2 separate regions of the Homo sapiens genome follow, and region 1 is linked to region 2. Evidence: fine-mapped expression QTL. A gene starts in region 2. The other region holds a variant in brackets. All regions are shown on one strand. Distances are from middle to middle. Region 1 overlaps CHST11 (carbohydrate sulfotransferase 11). Region 2 holds the start of SLC41A2 (solute carrier family 41 member 2).

What was found. PIP is the estimated chance that this variant, and not a neighbour inherited with it, causes the effect.
Region 1: its variant is fine-mapped to the expression of SLC41A2 in monocytes (BLUEPRINT, PIP 0.95).

Annotation. Positions count from the first base shown.
Region 1 is chr12:104,740,141-104,748,140 of GRCh38, forward strand. All of the region lies in intron 2 of CHST11 (carbohydrate sulfotransferase 11), which reads left to right. Among named protein-coding and RNA genes, the nearest start is that of MIR3922, 150 kb to the left of the region's middle. RefSeq lists enhancers at 853-902, 2,609-3,230. The variant CATTTATTTATTTATTT/C (reference allele first, on the strand shown) is at 4,704.
Region 2 is chr12:104,951,507-104,962,817 of GRCh38, forward strand. SLC41A2 (solute carrier family 41 member 2) reads right to left here and starts at 6,784. Exons shown (of 11, transcript NM_001352171.3): 1 at 6,582-6,784. RefSeq lists silencers at 6,173-6,502, 6,693-6,962.

The DNA.
Region 1 (8,000 bases), 210 kb before region 2:
TTCCCAGTTCTTGCCTCACTTTTCTTTAATGAGCTCTGAAATCAGGCCAGCCCAGGGGGACCTATCCCACGTTCCCTATTCTGGATAATAAAATGGGTCACTCACTTCTTTTTAGTTTTATAATTTCCATTGATCATAAATCTACATGTGTTGTCAAAATACTCCTCTGAGGTTGATGGAAGGTAGCAAAGATGGTTTTTCTATTTCATAGGAATGTTATGGCACCACACAGATGACACTCCCTGCCCTCTCACTCTGCCCTGGAATCCATCCCTGCACCTCCAACAAGGGCTGCTGGGTGGATAGAAGGAGAAAATCCCTCTTTTTGCTCTGCTGTCCAGCAGCACAACAAAAAGGCATATTTGGGTTCCAGTCTTTGCTCTGCTGCTTTCTGGGAGTGGGTGGATGAGCTCTCATCTCTGGGCCTCAGTTTTGCCATCTGAAAATCAGAGGGTGGTATCAGATAATCACAAAGGTATTTTGTAACTCTGAAGTTCTGGGTTCTAAGGACTCTGAGATGCAAAATTATTTGAAAGCTCTACAGGCAGAAGAATATTAATACCTCTGATGTCATGCAATTGAGGGTGTCTTATTCACCTCTGGGCCCCGGGTCTGTGTCCCTGCCATTGTGTGTGACTCTGTTCCTGGATATCTGTATCTTCATGTCCTCGGCCATGGCCTAAGAAGCCGCAGAGATGTCTGACTTCCTCAGTGAACAGCAGATGGATGGATTTAGACGTGCTTGTCCCTCTAGCACTCCACGATGGTCTTCCTGTTCCACTTTCACTATGATTGAGAATGGGCCGTCCTTCTTGAAAGAGGAAAAAGGCAGTGAAGTGATAAACAAAATCTTCTTAGTACTCTGCAAAGATGTTCATGTGTTGCCACAAAGCTAATCACCCTTTTCTGAATTCTGCAAGTATTGGGCACCAAGTGCCTGGGACACTGAGATACCTGGGCCTTATCCCAGCTGCCCTGGAGGGAGGGCATGAGTTGAGCTCACATTGTTCATAGTGACATTAACTATGATCAGGATGGAGCAGGTTGAGGCAAAGGGGTGAAGGTAAAGGTGGTGGAAATGGCTCCGTTGGGGCCCCAGGCTTGGTGGTGGTGGTTACTGGGGAGAGAACGAGGGTGTCTTCCAGGCAGGGGTAGGAGGAGGGCTTTGGAGCCCCATCTGCAGAACTAGCTCCACCTCTCTCTTGGGGGAGGACCAGCCTTCCTCTCACTGGAAGCATGCAACATGCAGAAACGAAAGGCCCAGAGCATGGCTCATGCGTGCCTTTGGAACAATGGAGAAATCGGGTATTGTTAAAACATGCTGCTTGACTAAGAAATAAATGGACCTCTTTGGGTGCCTCTCAATTCATAGTTCAGTTACTGTGAAATTCCATGAATCCTTTACAGTCTGTTAATACATATTAATAGCTAATCTTGATATTGCCAGAAAATTGCTCTTCAGACCTCCAATTTGCTTAACAGCTGCCAATCTAAGTTGCCGCCAATTGCCTCTATCGGTCTTCTGTGTCAGTGAGATATTAAGTCGCCATGAGCCAGGCATTTTGCACAGATGACAAATGTGTTTGGCGTTCACTGCAGAACCCGCTCATGTAAAAGCGACGCTCAATCATCAGTTCTCAAAGTGAAACAGAGACCACCAGCCTCAGAATTGGCCTGATAGAATCATCACGGGGCAGCGATCAAGAGCAGGTTCCCAGGACAGCCCGACCCACTGAACCAGAATTACTCAGGGTGGTGTCTGGGAACCCGCATTGCATCAGATTCCCGCTGTGATTCTTACATACACTGAACATTGAGAAATGCTGTCAGGTGAAAGGCAAAGCAACATTCCTGCTATCCTGCCCCCGGCACTTGGGAAACCACCCTCTGTAAGGTTTACAGTAGCTACTTCCTGAGTGCCTACTATGTGCCAGGTACCATGCTATGTGCTTTCCTTGTGGGCTCTCATCTAATCCTCAAAATGACCCTGAGAAGTAGACTTTATTGTTGTCCCCATTTTGCAGATGAGGAAACTAAGGCCTGAAGGGCTCAAGTGATTAGGCCAAAATAGAAGTAGAATATTCTGGTCAGTCTGGGAAGAGAACCAATGAAGCCAACTGGTTCAAAGAAGGGAGAGGCCAGGAGGAGATCCTGAAGGGAGGCAAGCCCCTGCCTCCCAAGAGCATCACCCTCTGGGAGGCCCATCGTGGTAGGGGAGGTTGACGGCCTCCCTGGCTAGGGGAGGGGTAAGCCACCCGGGACTGCTCAGTGGACCCATGCTCCTCCTCCCCTACTCCTGCCAGCAGCGACTTCCGAGGACCCCAAAGCACTAGCCAGCAGGTGCTCAGCCTGCCTGCCCTTACTTCTGATTTCCCAAGCAGTGTGGGAGCTGCATCCCTTCCTCACCGTTGTTCCTGTTCCGGGCCACCATTCATCGGAAAGCAGGCCAGCTTGGCAGCAGCCCCATTCCTATTCCTGCCCCCCTCCGGCACCCTGCCCAGGCCTCCGGAAGCCCAAACAGCTGATCTGAGATGTCAATAAGGCCCTTCCAGCTGCACCTGGCCTGGCTGAAAGGGAGCCCCGGGGGTACCACACAGCCTCAGACCAAGTCCTTCCTGGGCAGCCCTTGGCGCCCTCCCCCTCCAGCGTGATTTGATTCCCCTCCTCTTGTTTCTTGGCCTCACCAGACGGGTGGAAAGTGCCAGCGTCCCTCCCTCATCAAAAGCTGTTGCATTTCTACCCAGGGCTGAGAGTCCCCGCTCTTCTCTCTTGGCCTCCAGCCCCAGAGCTGATGCTAAGCTCCTGTGTGGCAGCCACAGGCTCTAAGCCAGAAATCTCCACCAGAAGATGAGGTGGGGGCTGCGGGTTTAGGCACAGGAAGCCCACGAGGCCTCATTGGCCGTCTTGTGACCCGAACAATCCCTGCTGTCCCAAAGTCATTCATGCATTCAACAAAGCTTTCAGTGTCCACCGTATGTGAAGCACTGGGAATACAACAGTGAACAAAAATTAGTGAAAACTACCTGCCATCTCAGAGTTAACGTTCAAGAAGGGAGAGACCAGCAAAATAAGTAAATTGAGATAAACTAAGGAGATAAGTACTACAAAGAAAAGGGAAGCAGGGAAGGGGATGGGAGAGCTGAGGTTCCAGAGGTGTCTCTTAATATCCACCACTGAGTGTGAGCCTTCCTAACTGCACCCAGGGACTCCCACAGTCTGGCTGGTTCCGCCTTGTCTTTCTCTTGCAGTTGCCCACAGGTTCCACTAAGTGAGCAGGGGCAGCTGGGCTGGAGGCAGTGGGGGCTGAGAGCAGCCAGAGGAAGGCACCCCCTTACTATCCTCAAACACCTGGGGGAGGCACCAACCCTACAGGGATGGTTCGGCTCACACCACTAAAATGATTGTAGCTAACATTTAAGAATACAGAGATATCACATGAAACCTAATATTCTGACTTCTCTTTTTTTAATTTATATTTTTCTAACTTTTAAGTTCAGGGGCACATATGCAGGTTTGTTACATAGGTGAACTTGGGTCATGGGGGTCTGTTGTACAGATTCTTTCATCACCCAAGTATTAAACCCAGTACCCATTAGTTGTTTTTCCTGATCTTCTCCCTCCTCCCACCTTCCACCCTCCAAAAGGCCCCACTGAGTGTTCCCCTCTGTGTCCATGTGTTCTCATCATTTAGCTCCCACTTATAAGTGAGAACATGTGGCATTTGGTTTTCTGTTCTGCATTCGTTTGCTAAGGATTATGGCCTCCAGCTCCATCCATGTCCCAGCAGAGGACATGATCTCTCTTTTTTTATGGCTGCATAGTACTCCATGGTATATATGTACCACATTTTCTTTATCCAGACTATTATTGGGCATTTAGGTTGATTCCATGTCTTTGCTATTGTAAACAGTGCTGCAGTGAACACATGTGTGCATGTGTCTTTATAATAGAATGATTTATATTCCTTTGGGTATATACCCAGTAATGGGATTGCTGAGTCAAATGGTATTTCTGTCTTTAGGTCTTTGAGGAATTGACACACTGTCTTCCACAATGGTTGAACTAATTTACACTCCCACCAACAGTGTATAAGTGTTCCTTTTTCTCCGCAACCTTGCCAGCATCTGTTATTTTGACTTTTTAGTAATAGCCATTCTGACTGGTGTGAGATGGTATCTCATTGTGGGTTTGATTTGCATTTCTCTAATGATCAGTGATGCGGAACTTTTTTTTGTATGATTGTTGGCCTCATGTATGTCTTCTTTTGAAAACTGTCTGTTCACATCCTCTGCCCACTTTTTTATGGGGTTGTTTTTTTCTTGTAAATTTGTTTAAGTTCCTTATAGATGCTGGATATTAGACCTTTGTCGGATGCATAGTTCGTAAAAATTTCCTCCCGTTCTGTTATTGGTTGTCTGTTTACTCTGTTGATAGTTTCTTTTGCTGTGCAGAAGCCCTTTAGTTACATTAGATCCCACTTGTCAGTTTTTGCTTTTGTTGCAATTGCTTTCGGTATCTTCATCATGAAGTCTTTTCCCGTGTGTATGTCCTGAGTGGGATCGCCTAGGTTGTCTTCTAGGGTTTTTATAGTTTTGGGTTTCACATACAAGTCTTTAATCCATCTTGAGTTAATTTATGTCTGTGGTGTAAGGAAGGGATTCAGTTTTAATCTTCTGCATAGGGACAGCCAGTTATCCCAGCAT[CATTTATTTATTTATTT/C]ATTTATTTATTTATTTATTTATTTATTTTTTGAGACAGAGTCTTGCTCTCTTGCCCAGGCTGGAGTGCAATGGCATGATCTCGGCTCACTGCAACCTCCGCCTCCCAGGTTCAAGCAATTCTCCTGCCTCAGCCTCCCAAGTAGCTAGGATTACAGGTGCCCACCATCATGCCTGGGTAATTTTTGTATTTTTAGTAAAGACCGGGTTTCGCCGTGTTGGCCAGGCTGTTCTCGAACTCCTGACCTCAAGTGATCTGCCTGCCTCAGCCTCCCAAAGTGCTGGGATTACAGGCATAAGCCACCACGCCCGGCCCCTAGCACCATTTATTGAATAGGGAATCCTTTCCTCATTGTTTGTTTTTGTCAGGTTTGCTGAAGATCAGATAGTTGTAGGTGTGTGGTCCTATTTCTGGGTTCTCTATTCTGTTCCATTGGTCTATGTGTCTGTTTTTGTTCCAGTACCATGCCGTTTCGGTTACTATAGCCCTGTAGAATAGCAAGTAGGGTAGCTGATGCCTCCAGCTTTGTTCTTTTTGCTTAGGATTCCCTTGGCTATTCGGGCTCTTTTTTGGTTCCATATGAATTATAGAATACTTTTGTCTAGTACTGTGAAAAATGTCAGTGGTAGTTTAATAGGAATAGCATTGAATATATAAATTGCTTTAGGCAGTAGGGCCATTTTAATGATATTGATTCTTCCTATCCATGAGCATGGAATATTTTTCCATTTGTTTGTGTCATCTCTGATTTTTTTGTGCAGTGGCTTATAGTTCTCATCATAGAGATCTTTCACCTCCCTGGTTAGCTGTATCCCTAGGTATTTTATTCTTTTTGTGGCCATTGTGAATGGGAGTTCATTCCTGATTTGGCTCTTGACTTGACTATTGTTGGTGTATGAGAGTGCTAGTGATTTTTGTACACTGATTTTGTATCCTGAGACTTTGCTGAAGTTGTTTATCAGCTTAAGAAGCTTTTGGGCTCAGACAACAGGGTTTTCTAGATGTAGGATCATCTCATCTGCAAACAGGGGTAGTTTGACTTCCTTTCTTCCTACTCAAATGTCCTTTATCTCCTTCTCTTGCCTGATCACCCTGGCCAGAAATTCCAATACTATGTTTAATAGGAGTGGTGAGAGAGGTCATCCTTGTCTTGTGCTGGTTTTCAAGGGGAATGCTTCCAGCTTTTGCCCGTTTAGTATGATGTTGGCTCTGGGTTTGAATTCTGACTTCTCTTGAGAAATTGAAACATCTCGAAAGACCAGGTCCTCAATTCCCTAATGACGGTATCAGTGAGATCTATGTGGCATCAGCCACCTTCAGTGGCCCAGTGGACGCTGACTGGGTTCATTCCCATTCAAGGTGCCGAGGCCATTCATTTCTATTTCCTGATGGTTCTGGAGAGCCTTTGAGTTTGTGACTCTAACCCAGGTCACCCAATATAAACCCTGCCTACAAAAGAAGTACTTTAACTACACTAGGGTGAAACAACCCTTTCTCATTGCTCAGCAAATCCTGGGCTTTCCTTTCTGCTCATTTTTTTCTGCCTATAAAGATCCCAAGGTTAAAATGGAGCTCAGAACTATCACCCACCTGTGCCAGTGTCAGCTGAGGCTGGCTTGGGGGCTGATCCAGAGGCCAACACCAGGCCCTCCATCACTATCACCCAGAGCCTCCTACCTCACCTTCAGGGCTCAAAATGCTTTCCAGCCACGGTGCATTTTCCTTCTTCCTTTTGCCTTGGAAAGGAAGGCAAAGCTTCTGCAGAGATTCAGTTGTTGTTCCTTGCAGTCAAACAGGTGCTTCCCTAGTGACAAGTTACAATCCAGAGAAACCAATTTCCCTGACAACGTTAATGTCAGTTAACATGAAGCCACTTCTTTCCTAAACCCTTTACGTTTTGTACCAGGTCCAGACCAGATCGTTTCTTTAAAGGCCCAATATTTTTCTCCTTTCTTTTCTAAACCTAAGAGGTTTTGAGCATTATGTAATTCTTAGTGCTTCCCCTAAAATGCACCCAAAGATGTCTGAGACCTGTGACCTTCTAGACCTTTGACCCCTGGCTCTACTGAATGAAAAGTCCCCTATCTTAAACCTGAGGACCAGGAAGGTGAAACTGGCCCAAGATCATATGCCGGTCACCACTCCAGTCCAGTTCTTTGCTTTAGCTTATAGCTCCTGGCATTGGAGCCCCTGAAATAGTGGAGTCCCACCCGGGCAGCCTCAGATTTCCAGGAGCAATTAAATATAACAGATCTCTGGGGTGGGACTCAGTCCTCAGTGTTTAAAGCTCTCCTATGATCCCAGTGAGCTGCTAGGGTTGAGACCCACGCCTCCAGCGGCTGCCCGGGAGCCGATAACTCCCGGGTGGGTCTCCAGACCCCAGGAGGCTGCACCATGCAGGGTCTCAGACCACAGTCTGCCTGGACTCGAACCCCAGACCCGGTTCCTAGCTCCCTGAGCTTGAGCAAGTTAATTATTCTCCCTGTGCCTGTTTCCTTATCCACAAGTTGAAAATACTAATGATACCTACCTCATAGAGTGTGAAGATCAACAGTAGCTGGTACATAGTAAGTGCTCAATATATGGTAGCTAGTATAAATATGTGACCCTTTTTTTGCTGTGGATGTGGTGTCTTCGGTGATTCCTCATGACTAGCCCTTTTCATGAGAGTTTAGTAATTCCTCTGCCAGAAAGAAACGTCATATAATCAGAGCAAATCAGCTCATCAGGTGCTCCTCCCCCTCCCCCAATTCTGAAACAGAAAGATGATGGCAGCACAACTGACATGCTGAGAGGGGTTTTGCATTCAGATTTTTAAGTGGAGAAACTGAGGCTAGACCCAAGCTAACAGTTGTTAAAGGCAGATTCAGAAAACCCTCAGTCACTTAATGCTTCCAAATGTACCTGTTTCTCTGGGTCTATTTGCCTGCATGTCCCCCGACTCTGCCCACCCCGAGACAGTCAAAGGGGGCGACCTCTCTTCCTCCTGTTTGGGTTCTTGTGTCTGAGGGAAATTGCAAACGCTGCAGTAATGTTTTAATTTAAGGGAAACCAGCTCTTCCTTTTAAGATGAAACGTAGTAAAATTTTAAAGACTTTTTCAAACAGTCCCTAAATTTGTTACTTAAACTAATTATGGTTGCCTTTTATAAATGTCCAAATTAAAAATAGACATCTAAACGAGAATGCAGGACACAGCCCAGAGCCCGGAGCCATGTTCACGGTTTCCTAGAATCAGCCCTCCTCTGACCTAATTTATACTTTTGAGAGATCAAAGCGAGA
Region 2 (11,311 bases):
GTAACTTCTTTTACCACTGATCGGAACCAAACACTGAAAGAATTTTTCCTTTATGGTTGGGTTTCACAATTTAATTCTGTGAAGTCATAATACTGTGACAGTAGAATCATGCTCTGGCAACAAACTGACATCATTAAATTCTTATTTGTAAATTCTTTAGGGTATATGGATGTTCTATTTTCATTTGTAAGAACAAAATCTATTTTCTGTTGATTCTTCATTAAGCTCATATGATTGATATATTTTCATCCATTTAGGTTGGTGCAAAAGTAATTGCAGTTTTTGTCATTACTTTTAATTGCAAAAACTGCACTTACTTTTGCACCAACCTAATAATTTATTCCTTTTGTCCTTAGCCATTTTTCTAACACTGCCTTTGGGTGAGTGCTCAGAGAATGCCTCTAAGTTCAAACAAAACAGAAATGATTTCTGGATTGGCTGCTCCTGTGAGCAATCTGTGTCACTGTACTCCCTGGGAAAACATCAAAACCACAATGTTTATTGTTCTTTTTATTATCTCTACTACTGTTTCAATGTAAGAATGCCCTCTGTTAAATTATCTTTTTAATAAATGTATGCAGTTCTATCATTAACATGATTTCAACTGAGAAAAAAAATTTGAATGAAAACTTTTTCTTTGTCCCAAAGCAGACATTACCAGAAACAGCAACGTCATGTCTACTACTGCATAATGTTCCTAATATTAAAGGTATTTAGACTCTATCAACGAAGATTTGCTTAGTCTCTATTGTGAGCCAGGCACTATACTAGTTGCCAGAGACTCAATGTTAAAGGACAGAAGTGAAATCTGTTCTCACAGACCTTTTGGTCTTGGTGCAAAGGTACTTAGGCGAACGAATCTTTATGAACTGGGAAATTCCAATAACAAAAATAGTGGGAAGATTTTTTACAAGAAATAGATTGGAACCAGGTTTTGGAATACCTGTAATGCTGGGCCAATGAATTTGAAGTTTACATCCGAGTTAAGAAAGACCAGGTACCCAAAGAGACCTTTTTCTAAAGATCTCTAATCAGGCCCCGATTAGAACTTTTCAATGATTTGTCATTTCCTCTAAGATAAATCCAACTTCTTTAATAAGGTTAACTAAATCCTGCATAAACACCCCTACTTACCCCTACAATCCAGTAAGTATCTATGAGTGGCACACCCTCATTTTCTATTGTATTCCTTTTAAAAAACATGTGGATTACAACTCACTAATTTGCTTTCACAATCTACTAGTAGGTGCCTGCAGTTAAAGAAAAAAAATGTCACTTTAGTGTACCACATTCTCACACCTCTTGGCCTTTCCACATGTTCTTTTTGCTCAAAACACTTCTGCTCAACCTCACTCTTCCCTTTTACCTAGCTACTTCCTATTCAGCTTAAGATCTCAGCTCTTTAACATCCATGTCCCTGGCCCTCATAGATAAGTTCTCCTTCTTCTGTGGTTCCAAAGCACTCTACACTTAACCAATGCTTATTACGCTTTATCGTAATGGTACTTGTACTAACTGTTTTTCTAGGTTGTAACTCTTAGAGCAAGGACCCATTCTTGTTCACCACTGAATCCCAAAGCCTAGCCCAGTGCCTGTCACGTATTAGACATTCCATAAATATTTAACCAGTACTGGTAAAACAAGGAAATAGACTTGAATAATCTATATATTTAACTACACAATAAAATAATCACTCAAAAGTGTCTAAGAGATTTAGTTATTTCCAAGGAAAATATACAGTCAGTTCATTTTTATAAATGGTGAATTAGTTCCTAGGCTAGCCTACAAAACACTATTTATTTCCCATAACATACTTAACTATGAGAGGATGGCTGTTTACTTCTCTCTGCAATGACAACAGAACTTTCACTCCTCTAAGTAGGAGAAAACAAGATTAAAGGAACACTTTTCTTTCTCTCCACCCCCATCACTAATTCCTCCCACAGGAAAGTGACTTATCTAATTGCTAGGATAGGTATAAAGGTCAACTGTTCAGACAGGCTCCACCCGTGAGCTCTCACTGGCTTTCTTGGACTTGCTGTGCCCTCAAGGAGAGAAAGTTTTCCTTTCCATTCTAACTGCTATAAGATAAGCTCCTTAGGACAGGACTTTCCCTTCCATTTCCTGGTGCAACAGTTTCATCTGGGTAGGTAAATTAAGAAAGAACAGTAAGCATGGGTCTAAGCTCAGTTCTCCAATCCAGCTTTACCGGAAATGAAAATTACACTATTATTTTAATAGTATTTAAATTCTTATCTGGCTTGAGTCTGATCTCAATTTGACTAGAATATGGAGAGAGAAGGGGTGTAACTAGCACACTTGAAAGCTTCAACATGAACAACAGTAATCCCAGTCTGATTTCTGGGTCCTAGGAGAACAGTTAGCATGGAGCAGCAAGGTGGGGCAAAAGGAAAGAGGGATCAAATGAAGGAAAAGGTTTCCACTTTTCCTATTTAGACATTTTTCTTGGGCAAAAATGTCTAAATAAGTCGAATCTGTCTTTATATCCTACAATCTTTCCTTCCAAATTGTTTCATTCTTGCTTTTCTTTTCTCATCTTTCAGATCCCTCATGCTATCTAAAGCTTTCCATTTTTTAACATCCTCACTTTTAGAAGTAGGGCAAACTTTGCCCAATATTCCAAAATGTTCCACGATCTCATAATACTTACATCTACTATCCCTCCTCAAGTCAAAACTCCCACTTCCTTAGTGTAGCTAACCAAGAAGAAAGCAATCTGATTAAATCCATTCACATTAAAATAGAATAACTGACAGTTCTAGTCATTTCCATCTAAATATTTCTGTATTTGTTATTTTTAAGCTAAATAAATCTAACTGCAGTACGTTCAGAGAGAAGAAAAAGTGTCCCTACCCTCATCTACCATAAAGGAGACAGGTCAGCTGTGACCATCACTTCTCAGGGATATCTCCATAGCGATTCCCAATTGTCACTGCCCTCTACTTTCAGTCCTTCCCAATAAGCGCCACTAAAAACCCCAGCGGGCAGAGAAAACATCTGTAGCTGCAGGATATTTGTATATCCATTGGGTAAGTTGGTAACAATCAATATTAGGTTGGATAGTTTATATTTTCAATACGTTTGATAATAATTTCATTAGTTAAAACAAAGTAAAAACACATTTTGGGTTATAAACCCGAAATTACCAGCCTCATTCTTCTAAATAAAGGCAGTGGCATAAAAGGGTTAATTCATATATCCATCATTTTGTAATGTATAGGTTGAAGCAGAGTTAGGCTATGCTTCACATGCTTTTTATCAGTTGCTTATCTATTATTTCCATTTGGAAACCTTTACTTGTATTTTCTATAAAGTTTTGGAAATTGGGAAGTGTACTTTCCAACAATGAGAAAGATTCTTTTCTTGACGAAATTTTACTCAGGCCCCTGAACCTTCTAGGCCCATTTGTGCACTTCCTTGTAAAATGCAGTTTTATCAAAGAACCTCGTCAAGTGAGTTTAGCAACAGCCCCTGACTCTTGGCCCTTGCTTTTTTTTTTTTTTTTTTTTTTTTGAGTTAAGACGAAGTTTTGCTCTGTGCAGTGGCGTGATCTCGGTTCACTGCAACTTCCACCACCTCCTGGGTTCAAGCAATTCTCCTGCCTCAGCCTTCTGAGAAGCTGGGATTACAGGTGCCCGCCAGCACACCAGGCTAATTTTTGTATTTTTAGGAGAGACAGGGTTTCACCATGTTGGCCAGTCTGGTCTCGAACTCCCAACCTCAGGTGATCTGCCCGCCTCAGCCTCCCAAAGTGCTGGGATTACAAGCATGAACCACTGCACCCAGCTGGCCCTCGCTTTCTGATTACCCTCGCTACCTGATTACCCTCACAACCTGATTAGGTTCCTCAGCTTCCACTGTCCCCCAGGTGGTGTCTGATCACTCTGGCCTGTCTTCAGCAAGAATCCTGTTAGGTTGGTTTGGTCTGAATATCCACTACCCCCGGTGTTTCCTCTCAGTACTTTTCTGTCCACTGACCATGACACTGCTCCTTGGCTATAAATTCCCATTTGCCCACACCGTATTCAGAATTGAGCCTAGTCTTCCTCCCAAACTGCAAAATCCCATTCCATGGTCCCTTTACCTATCACAATGGTCCTGAATAGACTTTTTTTTACCACATTTTAACAAGTATCATCGAATAATCTTTTTCTTTAACAACAATCATATTAGATCAGTGGAAAATTGAGTTTGAATTCCTGGGAGGTAACATCAGGTCTTTTTAGTGGTTTTTTTTTTTTTGGCCATGAAAGACCTGATGCTGAATTTGTGTGCGCTCGGAAATTAACCATGAAATAAGCACAGCAGCATTCATTTAGCTGTAAGTGGCTCTTAACTTTAGTGCCATCAAAAATATTTATTTACCACCCACACATGAACATAATTGTAATAAAAACTACACTGCACAAACTTAAGAAAACAAGATTCTCCACTTTACTGAGAAGTTAAACATAAATTTTTGAGTGATTTGTGCTTGCCATTTATTGTTAGTTTGTTCAGCTGGCCACTAATATAAATTTTTTGTAATTAAAGTGATAACTGGGATTTTCAAATTGAGCATAGAATATATGAAAATACCAATTAAGGGTGGTCTCTCTTGACTCCAGTCAGGAATATGCCTTCTGTAGCTTTGCTCAAAATACCAGGGCAGTAAATGTAAAGGGGTCAGTAAGATGTCCAGAATGAACAGGTAGGGTATTCTTAAAGAATGAAGTGGCACTTATTCAACCTTTACCCAAGAATAAGCATTAAGTTTTTCGGTATCAGATTGGTTGGATTTTTTCAAGTCAGTGCCAGTATCCAAACCTATTAACAGAAATTTTTTTCCATAAATGAACAATAAAACTCAATAAAAAGCTAAGCAACCCAGACTGGCCGTGGTGGCTTATGCCTGTAATCCCAGCACTTTGGGAAGCCGAGGTGGGCAGATCACTTGAATTCAGGAGTTGGAGACCAACCTGGCCAACATGGTGAAACCACGTCTCTACTAAAAATACAAAAATTAGCCGGGCATAGTGGTGTGTGCCTGTAGTCCCAGCTACTTGGGAGGCTGAGGCAGGAGAATCGCTTGAACCCCGGAGGTGGAGGTTGCAGTGAGCCAAGATTGTGCCACTGCACTCCAGCCTGGGTGACAGACTGAGAGTCAGTCTCCAAATAAATAAATAAATAAATAAATAAAAATAAAAAGCCAAGCAACCCAATTAAAATATGGGTAAAAGATATGAACATTTTCTCCAAAGAAAATATATGAATGGCCAATAAGCACATGAAAAGATGCTCAGCATCCCCAATCATTAGAGAAATGCAAATCAAAACCACAAAGAGATACCATTCCACACTCACTACGATGGCTATCATAAAAAATAACCAGTAAAAAAGTAACAAGCCTTGGGGAAGATGTGAAGAAATCGGAACCCTCATACACTGCTTAGTGGGAAAGTAAAATGGTACAGCTGCTTTGCTTGGCAGTTCCTCAAAAAGTGAAACACGGAGCAATTGCCCTCCTAGGTATATACCCAAGAGCACTGAAAACACATGTCCACAAAAACGTGTAAACAAATGTGCATAGCAGCATTACACACAATGGCCAAAAACTGGAAACAACCCAAATGTACATCAACTGATGAATAAACAAATGTGGTACACTGATACAACAATATTAATATGCTATAAAAAGTAAAGTACTGATACATACTACATGAGTGAAACTTGAAAACATTACAGTATGTCTTTCGACGCCAGACACAAAAAGCCACATATTGTACGCTTCCATTTATATGAGATTTCCACAACAGGCAAACCCATATAAACAGAAAGTAGATTAGTGGTGGCTAGTGGGGTGGGGTCAAGGGGAAATGAGGAGTGATTACTAAGAGAGACAGGGTTTCTTTTGGGGATGATGATCTGGATAGTGGTCATATTTGGAAAACTCTGTGAATATATTAAAAGCCACACTTTAGAAGAATGAGTTTTATGGCATGTGATGTATATCTCAATTTAAAAATTGTCACTACAAAAAAAAGATGACATATATACGTAATATACACATCAATGTATATCGGTAACACATAGATATGTGTCATCTCTCTCTGTAAATGAGCATTTGGGCTTTTAAATTTGAGATATGCTCCGTGTATATAAAGAGAAGAATGAAAGAAAAGGGTGACGGGGCACTCGCGGAGCCCTGAACAGGCATCTGGGGTGTGCCCGAGCCAGCCTCGCAGCATCTCCATCCCAGCTCACCTTCAGCCATCACTCATACACCACCCGCCGCCTGTCCCTGCCTTGGGCGCCCGGGACCGCTTGTCCGCGGTGGCCGCGGAACAGCTTCCCTCAGCCCGAGGTGGGGCAGGCGCGGGGGCCTGGGCTCGGGCGCTGCCCGGCGGCCCGGAGAGGCGTCCGCAGGGGGCACGGCTGCTCGGGCGGGGCCGCTCCCTCTGCTCCCCGCGCCCCCGCCGCCGGGTCCCGAGCCCAGGCCTCTCGGCCCCACCTCCCTCCCGCACCTGATGCGCCCGAACGCGGCGCCGCGGCCGAAGCCGAGACTTCCCCTCCATGGTCACCTGTTCCGGAGCGCGGCGGCGGCAGCGGCCGGTGTGAGAAGGGTCCCCGTCTCCTCAGACCAGACCGAGACACCAGGGGCGGGGGATGGAAGGGGCATTCACCTGGTGCCCGGCACCGGTGGTGGCGGGGAGGACAGCGGCTCCCAGCCCACAGCTCCTTCCTGCTCCCGCGCCTCCTCGCGCGGCTGCGGCCCCAAGCTGACAGCCCGGCCGTCGGCGCCCGCGGCCCCCTGACTCCCCGCCGCCCCGCCCCCGCGCGGCAGCCCCGCGCAAGCGCAGCCGCGCCGCCGCCGGGGAAGCCCGGGCCTTGGTGATGTGGCCCGCGGGGCGGCGACCCGGAGCGACAGCACCGCCCCGCCCGGACCCCGGCCGCGCCCTGGCAGACAGCTGTCGGGAACGGGGGCGCTGGATGACGGCAAGGGGGCAGTTTTCTGGGGAGCCTGCCCAGGAGAGAAGGGCTGTGGCCTCCTTCGGCATCCCTCTTCCCCACCAGCCCACGCACGCCCACTTCACCGCCTGCTCCAAGGTCCGAACCCCCGAATCCATGACTCATGATTTCTCTTCTCAGACCAGCGGCCTCTTTTTGGCTGAGGTCATGTTTCTTGCAGACTGGAGTTAAAACCGAACCACGTGTCTTTCGGCCCAGCAGCGCATAGTGTGGGCGGTGCAGGAGCCGAGACGGGCAGGAACCACCGCAGGAGGGGGTGAGGTTTAGGGCAGCCCCATAGCACCCTCCCCGTGCCAGGCAGGTGTAGGCGCCAAGCGCATGGGGCGCTGAAGAGTTGGCTGGGGTGCCAGGCTTTTCAAGTTTCCCCACACTTGCTTTTAAACCTAGATCAAACTGATCCAAAGTCTGCATGTAAATCCGAGAGCTCATTTATTTTATTTACAAAACTATTGAGCATCTACTGTGTATGATTCAGGGAATGAGACACACCCCAGGGATACTCCAGTGAACAAAAGAAAGGTGTTGGTCCGAAGACAGTTATTTTAAAAATTACACAGCTAATGCCATAATGCCAGGATTGGTGGCTCATGCGTGTAACCTCAACACTTCGGGAGGACCAGGCGAGAGGATCGCTTGAGGCCAGGAATTTGAGACCAGCCTGGGCAAACACAGCGAGACCTGGAGTGGCTAGGAGACTGAGGTGGGAGGATCGCCTGAGCCCAGGAGTTCAAGGCTGCAGCGGGCTATGATCGCATCACTGCACTCCAGTCTGGGCCACAAAATGAGACCTTGTCTCTAAAACAACAACTCAAAATTACACAGCTAATGATACTCTTTTCCTCAAATCAAAGCTTCTACCAATTCCAAGCCACACCAGTGATTTAGTAGCAGCTTTTCTGGTGCTGAAGGACACCAGCATACATTTATCCATGTTCTTTTTTTTTTTCCTTATGCTTTGCGATCAGACTTTGAGCTTTAACCTTAACCTTCAGGGTGAAGGGTGCTTCGGTATCACTCTTGGCCATCTGCAGTCATGCTTTTTATAATGACTCATCCTGGTGTTCCTCACCACCTAAAAATGAAAGTATAATTGCAAGGAATATGGAAAAGCAGTGTTTTGACTGCATTTCCAGCTGGTTTTTGTTCTGGTTGTTTTTTGAATTACAGATCATTAGAAAGTAGCTGCTCTTGAAAGTTTGGCAGAAGTTCCACCCAATATGTGTTCCTCCCCTGAGTGTGTAGTCTTTCAAGATTTCTACACAAAGCATATACAGAAGCCAGCCTGTCTTGGTTTTGAAAATTCTTCCACCATTTTTTTCTGAGAGAGCTGGTGGTTTCTACCGTCCTTCAGAGCATTACATGGCATGTGGCAGGCAACCTTCTACTTACATTCTTCATTCAGTACCGCAAAGTAGTGTGTACTTTGGAGATATGTTAAGCTTCAAGTTGGAATCCAAATTTAAATCAAATTTCAGCCCTGAAAATAACTCACATTGGAATCGGGCGAGGAAATGCCCCCTTGTAAAAAACTGGGTCCTAATGGGTGCAGACAACAACAATCCCATTTCTACTTCATCTCCCGTCTGACAGCTGGCAACTTCAAATGTGAAGCAAGTGGCTTGGACTTGAGGCTGTGTGGTGATGCTGTTGTGATTGCTGGAAAAAAGCCTGAGAGTTATGAGAGTGTATAACAAAGGAGCGTGTCTGTGCTAGGGGGTAAGAAAGATCTCCTGGAGGAAGTGACATTTAATCTCAGCCTTGAAGAATAAGGAGGAGTTAGGGCAGGCAACATAGAGAAGGGGGTGGGGTGGGCAGTGCATTTAGCTGTGGAAACTGCAGGTTTGAAGGCCCTTTGGTAGGAAGAGGCTCTGTCTGTGAAGGCTTTGGGAAAAGGCCACTGTGCTTAGACTGAGAGAGCTACCTGGGAGGGAGAGGTGGGCGGGCCCTTGAGGGTCAGGTTAAGGACTTTGGATTTAATCCTAAAGACAAAAGAAGCCAATGAAGAGTTGAAAAGGTCCTATCTGGACATGAAAAATTGCATTTGTAAAAGATGATCCTGGATGCAGTGGCTCACACCTGTAATCCCAGCACATTGGGAGGCTGAGGTGGGAGGATCACTAGAGGCCAGGAGTTTGAGACCAGCCTGGGCAACATTGCAAGACCCCCATCTCTACAAAAATAAAATAAAATTAGCCAGGCTTGGTGGCACGCACCTGACTGAGCCCAGGAGCTCGAGGCTGCAGTGAGCTATGATCGTGCCTCTGCATTCCAGCTTGGGCAGCAGAGTGTGAGACATTGTCTCTTAAAAAAAAAAAAAAAAAAAAAAAAAAGAGATTATTCCGGCTGCAGAGTGGAGAATTAATAAGAAGGGTGCAACAGAGGATGTGTGACAACCAGTTTGCAGGCAATGGAGATTAGGAGATGATGGTGGATTGAAGATATAGGTCAGGGTTAGAACTGTAAGGATTTGATCAAATGCATGGAAGGTAAAGGCGAAAAAGTGTCAAAAAATGACTCCCAAGTTTCTAATTTGAGTTTATGCCATTTCCTGATTTGGGAAATGTGGAGGAGGAGATCAGAAGGGGACAATTTTGAGTTGCTTTATATATGTTGAGTTTGATACCCCTATGAGACATTCAAATGAAGATACTGACTCTATGTTTGAAAAACTGCAACTCAGAGTAGAGATCTGGATTGAGGTGAATCAAAACTAAATTTTAGGAGAGCACATAATATGAACTGTTCATAAGATTTAACCTCTAAACTTCAGAGAAAACCTGAGCAGGCCAGGTGTGGTGGCTCATGCCTGTAATCGAGCACTTTGGGAAGCTGAGTCAGGTGGATCACTCGAGGTCAGGAGTTGGAGATCAGCCTGGCCAACATGGTGAAACCCTATCTCTACTAAAAATACAAAAATTAGCCAGGTGTGGTGGCGTGAACCTGTAGTCTCGGCTACTCAGGAGGCTGAGGTATGAGAATCACTTGAACCTGGGAGGTGGAGGTTGCAGTGAGCCAAGATTGCGCCACTGCACTCCAGCCTGGGCATCAGAGCTAGCCTCCATCTCAAAAACAAAAACAAAAACCTGAGCAGAAGCAAAGGGAATCTAATATTTACTATGTGTGAGACACTTCGCACAGATGATTTTCTTTAATCTTGACACTCTATAAAATGATGTTATAATCCCATTTTACATACGAGGAAACTGAGGGTTAAATCCTTGCTCAAAGTTACTCAAATTCCCAAGACCTACCTCAGACCCATTAAATAAGAATCTCTATGGATATTTCTGGTGATCACTGAGGCTCAAGAACCACCATGTGGCCTACTTAAAAGTGGTCCCACAAACCATATAAATGCCCACAAAGAAAAAGAACTAGAGAAAAACCATCATTCAGGGGACATGCAGCCCATGCAGCCAATGTTCCAGACACATGTGCTAGTTTCTGCCCCTACCCCCATTATCAGTGCCCTTCCTGGGAATCTCTGCAATACTCATTTGTTCATTCATTCAACAGGTAGCTATTGTGGGCCTCTTTTGTGCCAAATATAAATCATCATTCATTCATTTATAAATATTTTTTGAGCACTTAGCTAAATGCCACATTTTGTCCTATGCTCTGGGAATACAGTATTGAACAACATAAAGGAATGCCTGCCTTACAGAGTTCATGTTCAAATGGGGAAAGAAAATAAACAACTAATAAACAAATAAGCAAATATATATATCTAGGTATATGGTGATAACTACTATGAAAAGAAATAGAGTTAAAGAGTTAGAGAGTTTGGGGGCGGGGTGGGGAAGGTGTGGAGAGGAGCGGGGACTGTTTTATATAAACTAATCCAGGGAGACCTTGATGGCTTGAACAAAAAGGAGTGAGGGAACAGTAATAATACCTGGGGAAAGTACAGCAAGCACAAAGGTCCTAAGACAGGAGTGTGTATGTTGTGTTCAGGAGACAGCAAGGAGTCTCCTGTGTCTGTAGTGAAGTAATCAAGTGGTTGAGATGAAGCAAAATTAAATTTGCAGGCCAGGTGCTGTGGCTCACGCCAGTAATCCCAACACATTAGGAGGCTGAGGTGGGCGGATCACTTGAGGTCAGGAATTCGAGACCAGCCTGGCCAACATGGTGAAACCCCGTCTTTACCAAAAATACAAAAATTAGCCGAGCCTGGTGGTGCATGCCTGTAGTCCCAGTTACTCAGGAGGCATGAGAATCACTTGAGCCCGGGAGGTGGAAGTTGCAGTGAGCCAAGATTGCACCACTGCTCTCCAGCCTGGGC